4 separate regions of the Homo sapiens genome follow, and all the other regions are linked to region 1. Evidence: fine-mapped expression QTL. A gene starts in region 1. Each other region holds a variant in brackets. All regions are shown on one strand. Distances are between the middles of the regions.

What was found.
Region 2: its variant is fine-mapped to the expression of EFCAB13 in whole blood (INTERVAL, PIP above 0.99).
Region 3: its variant is fine-mapped to the expression of EFCAB13 in whole blood (TOPMed, PIP 0.96).
Region 4: its variant is fine-mapped to the expression of EFCAB13 in whole blood (TOPMed, PIP 0.96).

Annotation. Positions count from the first base shown.
Region 1 is chr17:47,322,860-47,325,547 of GRCh38, forward strand. EFCAB13 (EF-hand calcium binding domain 13) reads left to right here and starts at 1,096. Exons shown (of 25, transcript NM_152347.5): 1 at 1,096-1,215; 2 at 1,595-1,664. EFCAB13-DT (EFCAB13 divergent transcript) reads right to left here and starts at 1,042. Exons shown (of 3, transcript NR_110880.1): 1 at 830-1,042. RefSeq lists a silencer at 825-1,234 and enhancers at 1,575-1,664, 1,705-1,884.
Region 2 is chr17:47,507,971-47,510,650 of GRCh38, forward strand. No RefSeq gene overlaps it. Among named protein-coding and RNA genes, the nearest start is that of NPEPPS, 22 kb to the right of the region's middle. The variant AAAT/A (reference allele first, on the strand shown) is at 1,619.
Region 3 is chr17:47,453,017-47,455,704 of GRCh38, forward strand. It overlaps the pseudogene MRPL45P2. Among named protein-coding and RNA genes, the nearest start is that of NPEPPS, 77 kb to the right of the region's middle. The variant T/G (reference allele first, on the strand shown) is at 1,502.
Region 4 is chr17:47,357,595-47,360,282 of GRCh38, forward strand. All of the region lies in intron 9 of EFCAB13 (EF-hand calcium binding domain 13), which reads left to right. Among named protein-coding and RNA genes, the nearest start is that of EFCAB13, 35 kb to the left of the region's middle. The variant G/A (reference allele first, on the strand shown) is at 1,596.

The sequences.
Region 1 (2,688 bases):
GGTTCAGTCAGACAAAAGCAGCAAGTTTCTGAGATCTATTGCATAGTGTGGTGACTATAGCTAATAATAATATATCGTATATCTCAAAACTGCTAAGAGTAAATTTCAAATGTCTCACCATAAAAAACGTTAAACAAGGTGATGGATATGTTAAGCTTGACTTAGTCGTTCCATATTGTATACATATATTAAAATATAACATTGTACCCCATTAAATATTTACAATTATGATTTGTACATATATTTAATAATAATAAAAATCTAAATAAAATATTAAAGAATGCCTACAAAGCAAGGTTTAAGATGTAAATGAACACAGTAGTATCACGGAAGGGATTAAATATTGTAACATTTATTGAGCACTACGTATATATTTTTGAATTCCCACAACCCTGGAAGAATGAGAAAATCGAGACTCAGGGAGCGTTAAGTATTTTGCCCAACTGCATACGATAAATACATAGGAAAAACAAACACACAGAAGAAAACCAAACCAACCAAAGTATCTCTTTCAAAAGGAAACGACAGTCTCCTTAAAGGCAACCCGAGACAAATTTCAGCAAAGCCGTGGGACACATGGCCTTCGAGCTGCTGTCCATTATTGAGTAGCAGAAGCCAAGAAGGATGGAATGTTTTGGAAGAAAGGGGTCGGGGGTCGGGGTGTTCAAAGGACGGACCGAAGGTAAGATTGAAGTGGGGTCAGACCATGGCGGGACAGCGCACCGGAGAATGAACAGCGATTAGGGAAGAGTGGCGAGCGGGTGGCAAGGACGGAGGGCGGAATCCCGGCCGGGGCTGCGGGAGGAAAGCGCACGGACAGGAGCCCCACCGCTCGAATGCAGCGCCCGGCGGCTGGCCTCGTGAGGTCACAGGCCCTTACGAGGTGGGGCAGGCAGGCGCGGCCGCAGTGCCTTCCAGTCAGCGCGGAGGCGGTATTGAGTTCAGCCGCTCCCCACAGCCCCGGAGCCCCTGGGCGGTGGCGGTGGCCGCGGCAGCACCGGCTCGACAGCCGATAGGGTCCTGGGCCCGCTCCGCTCGGGGTGGTCGGTGGGCGGAGCGTCGGGCTCGGTCAGGTGACCGCGGGGGCGGGGCCGCGCGGCGCGGGATCCTGGGAAGGCTGCAGAGCTAGAGCAGCGCCGCCCGAGGGGCGGCAGGGGCTGACCACAGAGAGCGCGGGGGCCTCCAGCCGAGAGGAAGGGAGGGCAGCTCGGGCCGGTAGTGGGACCCTTGGGGGACAGAGGTGGGGAGGGGAGGCGAGACCCGCTGAGGAGTTGGGAGGGGAGCCTTCGAGGTGGAGGGTGGAGAATGCAGTAGGGTGCGAGGGAGGAAGGAGAACAGTGGTGGGGCTGGGTGAAGGAAGGTTCCAGAAAGGAACAGTGAGGGGACTGAGTGGGACAAAGGGGCAGATTGAAGGGTGACTGAGACTGATCAGGTGGTTCCTCAGAAATGGTGGTTGTTGTAGAAGGCTGGCGGTCCCGGGGGTGGTGTCACTTCCCTGCTCCTTCAGCGGGAGGCGGAGACCTCTATTAGCACACTCATTTCCATCTTGCGGGTCGTTCACTCGCTAGCTTACAGGTCCTCTTTCTTCCTGTAGAAGTCGTTGGCTTCGTAAGAGCAGGGTCTATGGGAAGCCTCCTCAGCGTGGGTTCTTGGAAGAGGTGGAGGTTCGTTCACTCGACGTTTGTTACACAAATATGAAAACAGGGTGACGAAAGTTTGAACGTTCATGAATGGCAGTAGCTGCAATGGAGTTGTGTATGCAGTTGGTATTAATGACGTTTTCAGTCCCTCTGGCGAGAGAAAAGCGAGCGAGTCGGGCGGCTTGTGAGGGAAATGTGGCATGAGAGGAAAGAGGAAGGTATTTTGTGAAAGGATGTCATACAGAGTCATGCTTCAGTGAAGACGCCTTTGTTTTTCTCATCTTAAAGCCTCACAGCCCCATTTTCCTCTCAGCTACTGCCTTATTTCTCTTAACAACGTAACTCCTTGAAAGAGCCTACCCTACTGGCTGGGTTCAATTTCTTTACCCCGTTCTCTCTTGTACTCACTCTGACGACATTGTCTCCTTACCACCCCACCCAGATGGCTCCTTTCAAGTTTGTCAGTGTCCTCCGTGTTGTGAAACCTAGCGAACCATTCAGTACTGATCTTAACCGCCCACCCCACCCCCCTTTTTTTTTTTTGAGACAAGGTCTCTGTCGTCCAGGCTGGAGTGCAGTGGTGCAATCATAGCCCACTGCAGCTTCAAACTCCTGGGCTCAAAAGATCCTCCTGGCTCAGTCTTTGGAGTAGCTGGGACTAAGGTCGCCATGTCCAGCTGATTAAAAAAAAAATTCTGTAGAGGTGGGAGTTTCACTGTTGCCCAGGCTGGTCTTGAACTCCTGGCCTTAAGCAGCCCTCCTGCTTAGACCCCCACCCCCGCATCAAAGTGTTGGGATTACCTGCATAAGCCACCATGCACAGCCTGATTGCTCACTCTTGAAGTACTTTCTTCACTTGGCATTCAGGAACCCAGACCTACCTGATTTCCCTCCTCACAGTAACCAGAGTGATCCTTTCAGAAAGAACTTCAGATTATGTAATCCTTCTCCTCAGAACTCTTTCAATGCTTGTCACTCCTTCAGAGTACAAGCCACAGTTCTTACTGTCATCTAGGGGTCCTCCATGATATGCCACTTTCACTTAGCC
Region 2 (2,680 bases), 190 kb after region 1:
CTTTTCATGAAACTCTGACTGCATTGGGTTTCGTGAGACCTGAACCTTTTTCACACAAGATACTGTCACACCAGTCCTACTCCTACCTGTGCAATTAATTTTTTTTTTTTTTTTAGTAGAGATGGGGTTTCTCCATGTTGGTCAGGCTGGTCTCGAACTCCCGACCTCAAGTGTGCCCACCTCGGCCTCCCAAAGTGCTGGGATTACAGGCGTGAGCCACCATGCCCAGCCCATTTAGTTTTTTTTTTTTTTTTAAATCAACTGCGCCGGGCGCAGTAACTCACATCTGTAATCCCAGCACTTTGGGAGGCCGAGGTGGGCAGATCACCTGAGGTTGGGAGTTTGAGACCCGCCTGACCAACATGGTGAAACCTGGTCTCTACTAAAAATACAAAAAGCAGCTGGGTGTGGTGGCGCCCGCCTGTAATCCCAGCTACTTAGGAGGCTGAGGCAGGAGAATCGCTTGAACCCAGGAGGTGGAGGTTGCAGTGAGCTGAGATCGTGCCACTGCATTCCAGCCTGGGCGACAGAGCAAGACTCTGTCTCAAAAAAAAAAAAAAAGAAAAGAAAAGAAAAAGAAATACAAACCTCAGCCAGGTACAGTGGTTTACATCTGTAATCCCACTACTTTGAGAGGCCGAGGCAGGTGTATCACCTGAGGTCCGGAGTTCAAGACCAGCCTGGCCAACATGGGGGAAACCCCATCTCTACTAAAAACACAAAAATTAGGCCAGGTGTGGTGGCTCACGCTTGTAATCCCAGCACTTTGGAAGGCCGAGGTGGGTGGATCACCTGAAGTCAGGAGTTCAAGACCAGCCTGGCCAACATGGCAAAACCCTGTCTCCACTGAAAAAAATACAAAAATTAGCTAGGCATGGTGGCAGGTGCCTGTAATCCCAGCTACTCGGGAAGGCTGAGGCAGGAGAATCGCTTCAACCCCAGAGGTGAGGTTGCAGTGAGCCAAGATCACACCACTGCACTTCAGCCTGGGCGACAGAGCAACAGTCCATCTCGGAAAAAAAAAAAAAAAAAAAAGAGCTGGGCACGGTGGCTCACGTCTGTAATTTCAGCACTTTGGGACACCAAGGTGGGCTGATCCCAAGGTCAATAGGTAGAGACCATCCTGGCCAACATGGTGAAACCCCATCTCTACTAAAAATACAAAAAAAGTAGCTGGGCATGGTGGTGTGTGCCTGTAATCCTAGCTACTCAGGAGGCAGAGGCAGGAGAATTGCTTGAACCCGAGGGGCAGAGGTTGCAGTGAGCCAAGATCACGCTACTGCTCTCCAGCCTGGGTGATAGAGCAAGACTCCATCTCAAAAAATAAAATAAGGGGCTGGGCGCAGTGACTCACGCCTGTAATCCCAGCACTTTGGGAGGCCAAGGTGGGTGGATCACCTTAGGTCAGGAGTTCGAGACCAGCCCGGCCAACGTGGTGAAACCCCATCTCTACTAAAAATAAAAAATTAGCTGGGCATGGTAGGGGGAGGAGCCTGTAATCCCAGCTACTTGGGAGGCTGAGGCGGGAGAATTGCTTGAACCCAGGAGGCAGAGGTTGCAGTGAGCCGAGATCGTGCCACTGTGCTCCAGCCTGGCAACAGAGCAAGACTCTGTCTCA[AAAT/A]AATAATAATAATAATAATAATAATAATAATAATAAAATAAAAGAGCCAGGCACGGTGGCTCATGTCTGTAATTTCAGCACTTTGGGACACTGAGGTGGGTGGATCACAAGGTTAAGAGATAGAGACCATCCTGGTCAACATGGTGAAACCCCATCTCTACTAAAAATACAAAAAAATTAGCTGGGTGTGGTGGTGTGTGCCTGTAATCCCAGCTACTTGGAGGCTGAGGCAGGAGAATCAGTTGAATCTGGGAGGCGGAGTTTGCAGTGAGCCGAGACCCCACCACTGCACTCCAGCCTGGGCGACAGAGCGAGACTCTGTCTCAAAAAAAAAATAAAAGAAAATAAATACAAACCTCAACATAGTAAACTTGCTGCTATTCAAGAGCCATTCTCCTCGGTAATAATATTGAGCACTAACATGGTTTTATCCTTATTTTTAAATTAAATTATTTTTAGTGTATTTTATTTTATTTTTGAGACAAAGCCTTTTGTTTGTTTGTTGTTGTTGTTGTTGTTGTTGTTGTTGTTGTTGTTGTTGAGACGGAGTCTCGCTCTGTCGCCCAGGCTGGAGTGCAGTGGCGCCGTCCCAGCTCACTGCAAGCTCCGCCTCCCAGGTTCACGCCATTCTCCAGCCTCAGCCTCTTCAGAAGCTGGGACTACAGGCTCCTGCCACCACGCCTGGCTAATTTTTTGTATTTTTAGTAGAGATGGGGTTCCACCGTGTTAGCCAGGATGGTCTCGATCTCCTGACCTCGTGATCCGCCCTCCTTGGCCTCCCAAAGTACTGGCATTACAGGTGTGAGCCACCGCGCCCAGCCAACAAAGTCTTACTTTGTCATCCAGGCTGACGTGCAGTGGTGCGATCATGGCTCACTGCAGCCTTGACCACCTGGGCCCAGGGAATCCTCCCACTTCAACCCCCTGAGTAGCTGGGACTACAGACCCATGCCACCATGACCAGTTAATTTTGTCAAAATTTTTTGTGGATACAGGGTCTCACCATGTTGCCCAGGCTGGTCTGGAACTCCTGGCCTCAAGGAAACCTCCTGCCTCAGC
Region 3 (2,688 bases), 130 kb after region 1:
TGTATTTTTATTAGAGATGGGGTTTCATTAGCCAGGCTGGTTTTGAACTCCGGACCTCAAGTCATCCCACTGGCCTCGGCCTCCCAAAGTGCTAGGATTACAGGTGTGAGCCATCGTGCCTGGCCCACAGTTTTCTACTTAGATATAAAAACAATATAAGATGTGAATTTATAGAAACATGTATCTCTGTAGGAATACACACACACACACACACACACACACACACACACACAATTTCCTAGCCATGCTGACTGAGAGTAGCAATAACCCACACCTAGCACCCACTTTGGCTTCTAAATATTATTCTCACCTAAAAGGAATCAAGGCTCCTCAGAGAAATGGTGATTTCAGAACTACAGCAGGAATAATATAAGATGAGCCTAGATTATACTGTTGTGTCAGAAGTAGAGAAATGCTTCTCTGAAATGATAGGTCAAAAGACACAGAAGCCGGCTTAAAGAGGTCCCACCAGGAAAACCTGAGACAGTATGTAAATCAAAATAAATGACATTAGTGGAATATGACCCATTAAAATAAAATAGCATAAGTCCATACTAATACAAATAATCAGGGAGTAAAGAAAGCTTCACCTTACAGCGGAACGTCAACTGATGAATGTGAAAGAAAAGGTGAAATTAGAAAATCACTACTTGCCATCAATCCTGGTCATAAATTAGGCCAAGAAACATCAATGAATGCTAAAATTAGTGAGGAAAAGGCGCAAGGAACAAGATGTTTATAGGCGAAGTACTTCCCCCACAAAATCCATACTGACTATAAAGAGAAAAAAGATTAACCTCACAGTGGAGAAACCTAAAAGACACACCTTAACCAAGTGGTCAAGGAAAAACTGAAATCATGTACCACCTGATAGGATGCAAACAAAAAACACAGAATCACGTATGTGATACTCCTGCTAAAAACATAACTGCTTTTAATCATGACGAAACATCAGGCAAATCCAAATAGGAGGTCATTCTACAAAATAACTGACCTGTAATATTCAGAAGTATCAAAGTTATGAAACTCAGGGAAAGACTGAGTTACTATTTGAGATTTAAAAAGACAAAAGAGGACTGGGTGTGGTGGCATAGACCTGTAATGCCAACAGTTTGGGAGGCTGAGGCAGGCAGATCACTTGAGGCCAGGAGTTCGAGACCACCCGGGCCAACATGGCAAGAGCCTGTCTTTACTAAAAGCACAAAAAAATCAGCTGGACGTGGTGGTGCACACCTGTAATCCCAGCTACTGGGGAGGCTGAGGCACGGGAATCACTTGAACCCAGGAGGTGGAGGCTACAGTGAGCCAAGATTGCGCCAATGCACTCCAGCCTGGGTGACAGAGCGAGACTCTGTACAAAAATAAAAAGAAAAATAAATAAAAAGACCAAAGAGTCAAAATGCAGTTTATGATCCTTTTGCTATAAAGAATATGTCTACAAAAACACGAATGGGTTCCAAAGATCAGACAGGAATAATGCATCGCTGTTAATTTCCTTATT[T/G]TGATGTTATATTGTATATTCCCAGGAGAATATTCTTCTTTATGGGAAATTCTGAAGTATTCAGGGGTGACAGCATATTATATTGGTAAGTTACTCTCAAATGGTTTAGGGAAGGAAGAGTTCTTTTGTACTATTCCTGCAACCTGTTTGTAAGTTTTAACGCTTTTAAAATTAAAAAGAAAAACAAGGTTTTTAAAAATGAACTTCCAAAGCACTAAAAAAAAAGTGCATTAATATAAAGATTTTCTTTGCACGGCATCAAAGGCAGAAACAATAAAGAGCATTTGCATAAATTACCTCAAAAATGTAAACTTGTGCATTAGAAAAAATTAACCTGCTAGAATCCCAATAACAAAAACTATGAAGACATAATAAAATTAAACACCAAACGTTAAACTATGGGAAAAAACACACACAGCAAATATACGAGACAAAAGAATATGATCTCTAATATAAAACACTTTGTAAAAAAAATTATAATATTAAAATAAACAGATATGGAAGGTCAATTAACATACATGAATAATCTTCAAAAAAAAACTTTAAAATAACCAACCTTACCAGTACTCAAAGAAACTCATTCAAACATTTTAATATTTTTTTTACTAGAAAGAATAGCAAAGATTTTTTTAAGGGTAACACAGTGTACCTAACAAAATATAGAGTTATGAGCAATCTCACATACAGCTAATACAGTGTAAGTTCTAGAGGACAATTTCACACAATGTATTTCTTGAAGCTTCCAAAATGTTCACACACTTTTACACAGATGCTAGCAGTGTATACTAAATGCCAGACACCAAACTAGGCCCTTCAACCACAAAGGGTTGCTTAATTAAATTTACAGTTTGTTGAATCTCATGATATTCTGTATTACAGACCAAGTATCTATTAAAAATACAGCAGAAACACAATTTATTGACACACAAAAGATGCTGTGTAATTTTCAAAAGCAAACAAAAAATATAAGCAAAACGATTCAACTTTTTCGTAAGTATATACTATAAGCAAAAATACACAGAAAAAACCCCGTCTCTACTAAAAAATAGAAAAATTAGTCGGGCGTGATAGTGGGCACCTGTAATCCCAGCTACTCAGGAGGCTAAGGCAGGAGAATTGCTTGAACCCGGGAGGCAGAGGTTGCTGTGAGCCGAGATCATGCCACTGCATTCCAGCCTGGGTGACAG
Region 4 (2,688 bases), 35 kb after region 1:
CATAGAAGTGGGATTTCACCATGTTGGCCAGGCTGGTCTCGAACTCCTAACCTCAGGTGATCCACCTGCCTCGGCCTCCCAAAGTTCTGGGATTACAGGCGTGAGCCACTGTGCCCTGCTACAAAACATAAATTATATGTATGTATCTGTGGTCAGTACTTAGGAGTCCAAACACACATATAAATCTATAGTCAGAAAAAAATGTAAGTTGAGTTCCAGACAGTAGGGAAAAATGATGGATAGGAGGCAGGACTAACTTGCAACTTTCACTCGGACAGACAGAGCAGCGTGTAGAGACCACTTTTTGAATCACAACTTAGAATAGCTTATTTACTTCCCTATATTCCTTGATTTTTCAAGTCCTGGTTTCCTATTTTGACCTTATTTTCTGTTTGTGGACAGTGTTCTGAGACTAATCAAGAACTCTCAGGTTTCTTTTGTTCCTTTTAAAAGAACACACATAATTCTTGAATATATTGTTGTAATAAAATATCCAAGCAATATATGTGTATAAAGATGTGAAAGACCTTCTTTAACCCAAGATTGCTGCAGTTTAATACTGACCTGAGAATTCTTTTTATATGCACATACATACATATAATTTATGTTTTGTCAAGGCAAAATGAGTTATCAATTACTAGGCAGAGTGGAAGCAAAGGACCTAGGTCTCATAGAAACTAGTAAAAAGATCAAGCATACAGTTAGAAATCAAGAGACTCCCTAGAGAAAAATAAAAGGGAAAAATGCAAATATCTTTTTCTTAAGAGAAAAAGAAATTTTGCCACCTTGTTTTGCAGGAACTATCTTGTTTAATTATATTTCTCAATTATGAAATTAGTAATCTTTTAATATAATTACTGGTCATTTATATATTTTTTCTATGAATTGCCTTTTCACATATACTTTTCATTTAAAAAACTGGGTTGTTCATCTCATTGATTTGTAGGAGTTTTCATATTCTGGCTATTAATCCTTTGTTATGTATGTTACAAATGTTTTCTTCTAGTCTGTTGTTTCTCTTTTAATTTTGAACTGGTGTCTTTGGTTTTTGGAATGGGACTGTTACATTTTATCACAAAATTTATTATTTTTTCTTTATGTCTTCTGAGTTTTGAGTTGTGCTTAAAGAGGCCTTTCTCACCTCAATAGTACACACATACATTTTCATCATGATTGTGGAGTACTGGTTTTCAATGCTCCAGGGAACCTGGAGATGGGTAGATGGGAATAGGGCAAGTTTAAATGCCACAAACCTCACTGTTCTTATTGAGACTCAGTCATTTTTCTTGAAGAAATTCCTCGGATAGCTGCAAGCCTTTGGCTTATTTTCAGAGTTTTGAAACAAGTTGGTTCTGATAATTTTTGCCAGAGTTCTCATTGCTTTTATGGAGCAGAGGGTTTCTGGAGGTCCCTTCCTCTGCTATTTTTGTTCACTTGATCAATAATGACTAGTTGAGACCAGGCATGGTGGCTCATGCCTGTAGTCCCAGCACTTTGGGAGGCCAAGGCGGGTGGATCACTTAAGCCCAGGAGTTCGAGACCAGCCTGGGCAACATGGCAAAAATCCATCTCTACAAAAATACAAAGAAATTAGC[G/A]GGGCATAGTGGTACGTGTCTGTAGTCCCAGCTACTCAACAGGCTGAGGTGGGAGAATCGCTTGAGCTGGGGAGGCAGAGGTTGCAGTAAGCCGAGATCGTGTGATTGCATTCCAGCCTGGGCTACAGAGAGATACCCTGTCTTTAAAAAAGAAAATTAATTAATTAAAAAAAAGACTAATCGAATGAACAAATAATGCCCAGTTTTTCCTCCTTGACTGTGCTTATCAAAGAACTTAGTAATCATTAGTTTATTATATGATGAATTTCAAGAAAATCTAGTCTGACTATAAATGATTTTCCGTCTGAAATTGATAATGGGAATTGTGTTTTTTTTTTTTTTTGTCAAGGCTAATTAAGGGGTGTAGTGGTCAGGGAGGATATAAATTTAGCAGTTGGACACGGCTTTCAATCTGTTTAATTTTTTTTTCAATTTTTTTTTTATTATTATTATACTTTAAGTTTTAGGGTACATGTGTACAATGTGCAGGTTAGTTACATATGTATACATGTGCCATGCTGGTGTGCTGCACCCATTAACTCGTCATTTAGCATTAGGTATATCTCCTAATGCTGTCCCTCCCCCCTCCCCCCACCCCACAACAGTCCCCAGAGTGTGATGTTCCCCTTCCTGTGTCCATGTGTTCTCATTGTTCAATTCCCATCTATGAGTGAGAACATGCGGTGTTTGGTTTTTTGTCCTTGCGATAGTTTACTGAGAATGATGATTTCCAATTTCATCCATGTCCCTACAAAGGACATGAACTCATCATTTTTTATGGCTGCATAGTATTCCAGGGTGTATATGTGCCACATTTTCTTAATCCAGTCTATCATTGTTGGACATTTGGGTTGGTTCCAGGTCTTTGCTATTGTGAATAGTGCCGCAATAAACAAACATGTGCATGTGTCTTTATAGCAGCATGATTTATAGTCCTTTGGGTATATACCCAGAAATGGGATGGCTGGGTCAAATGGTATTTCTAGTTCTAGATCCCTGAGGAATTGCCACACTGACTTCCACAATGATTGAACTAGTTTACAGTCCCACCAACAGTGTAAAAGTGTTCCTATTTCTCCACATCCTCTCCAGC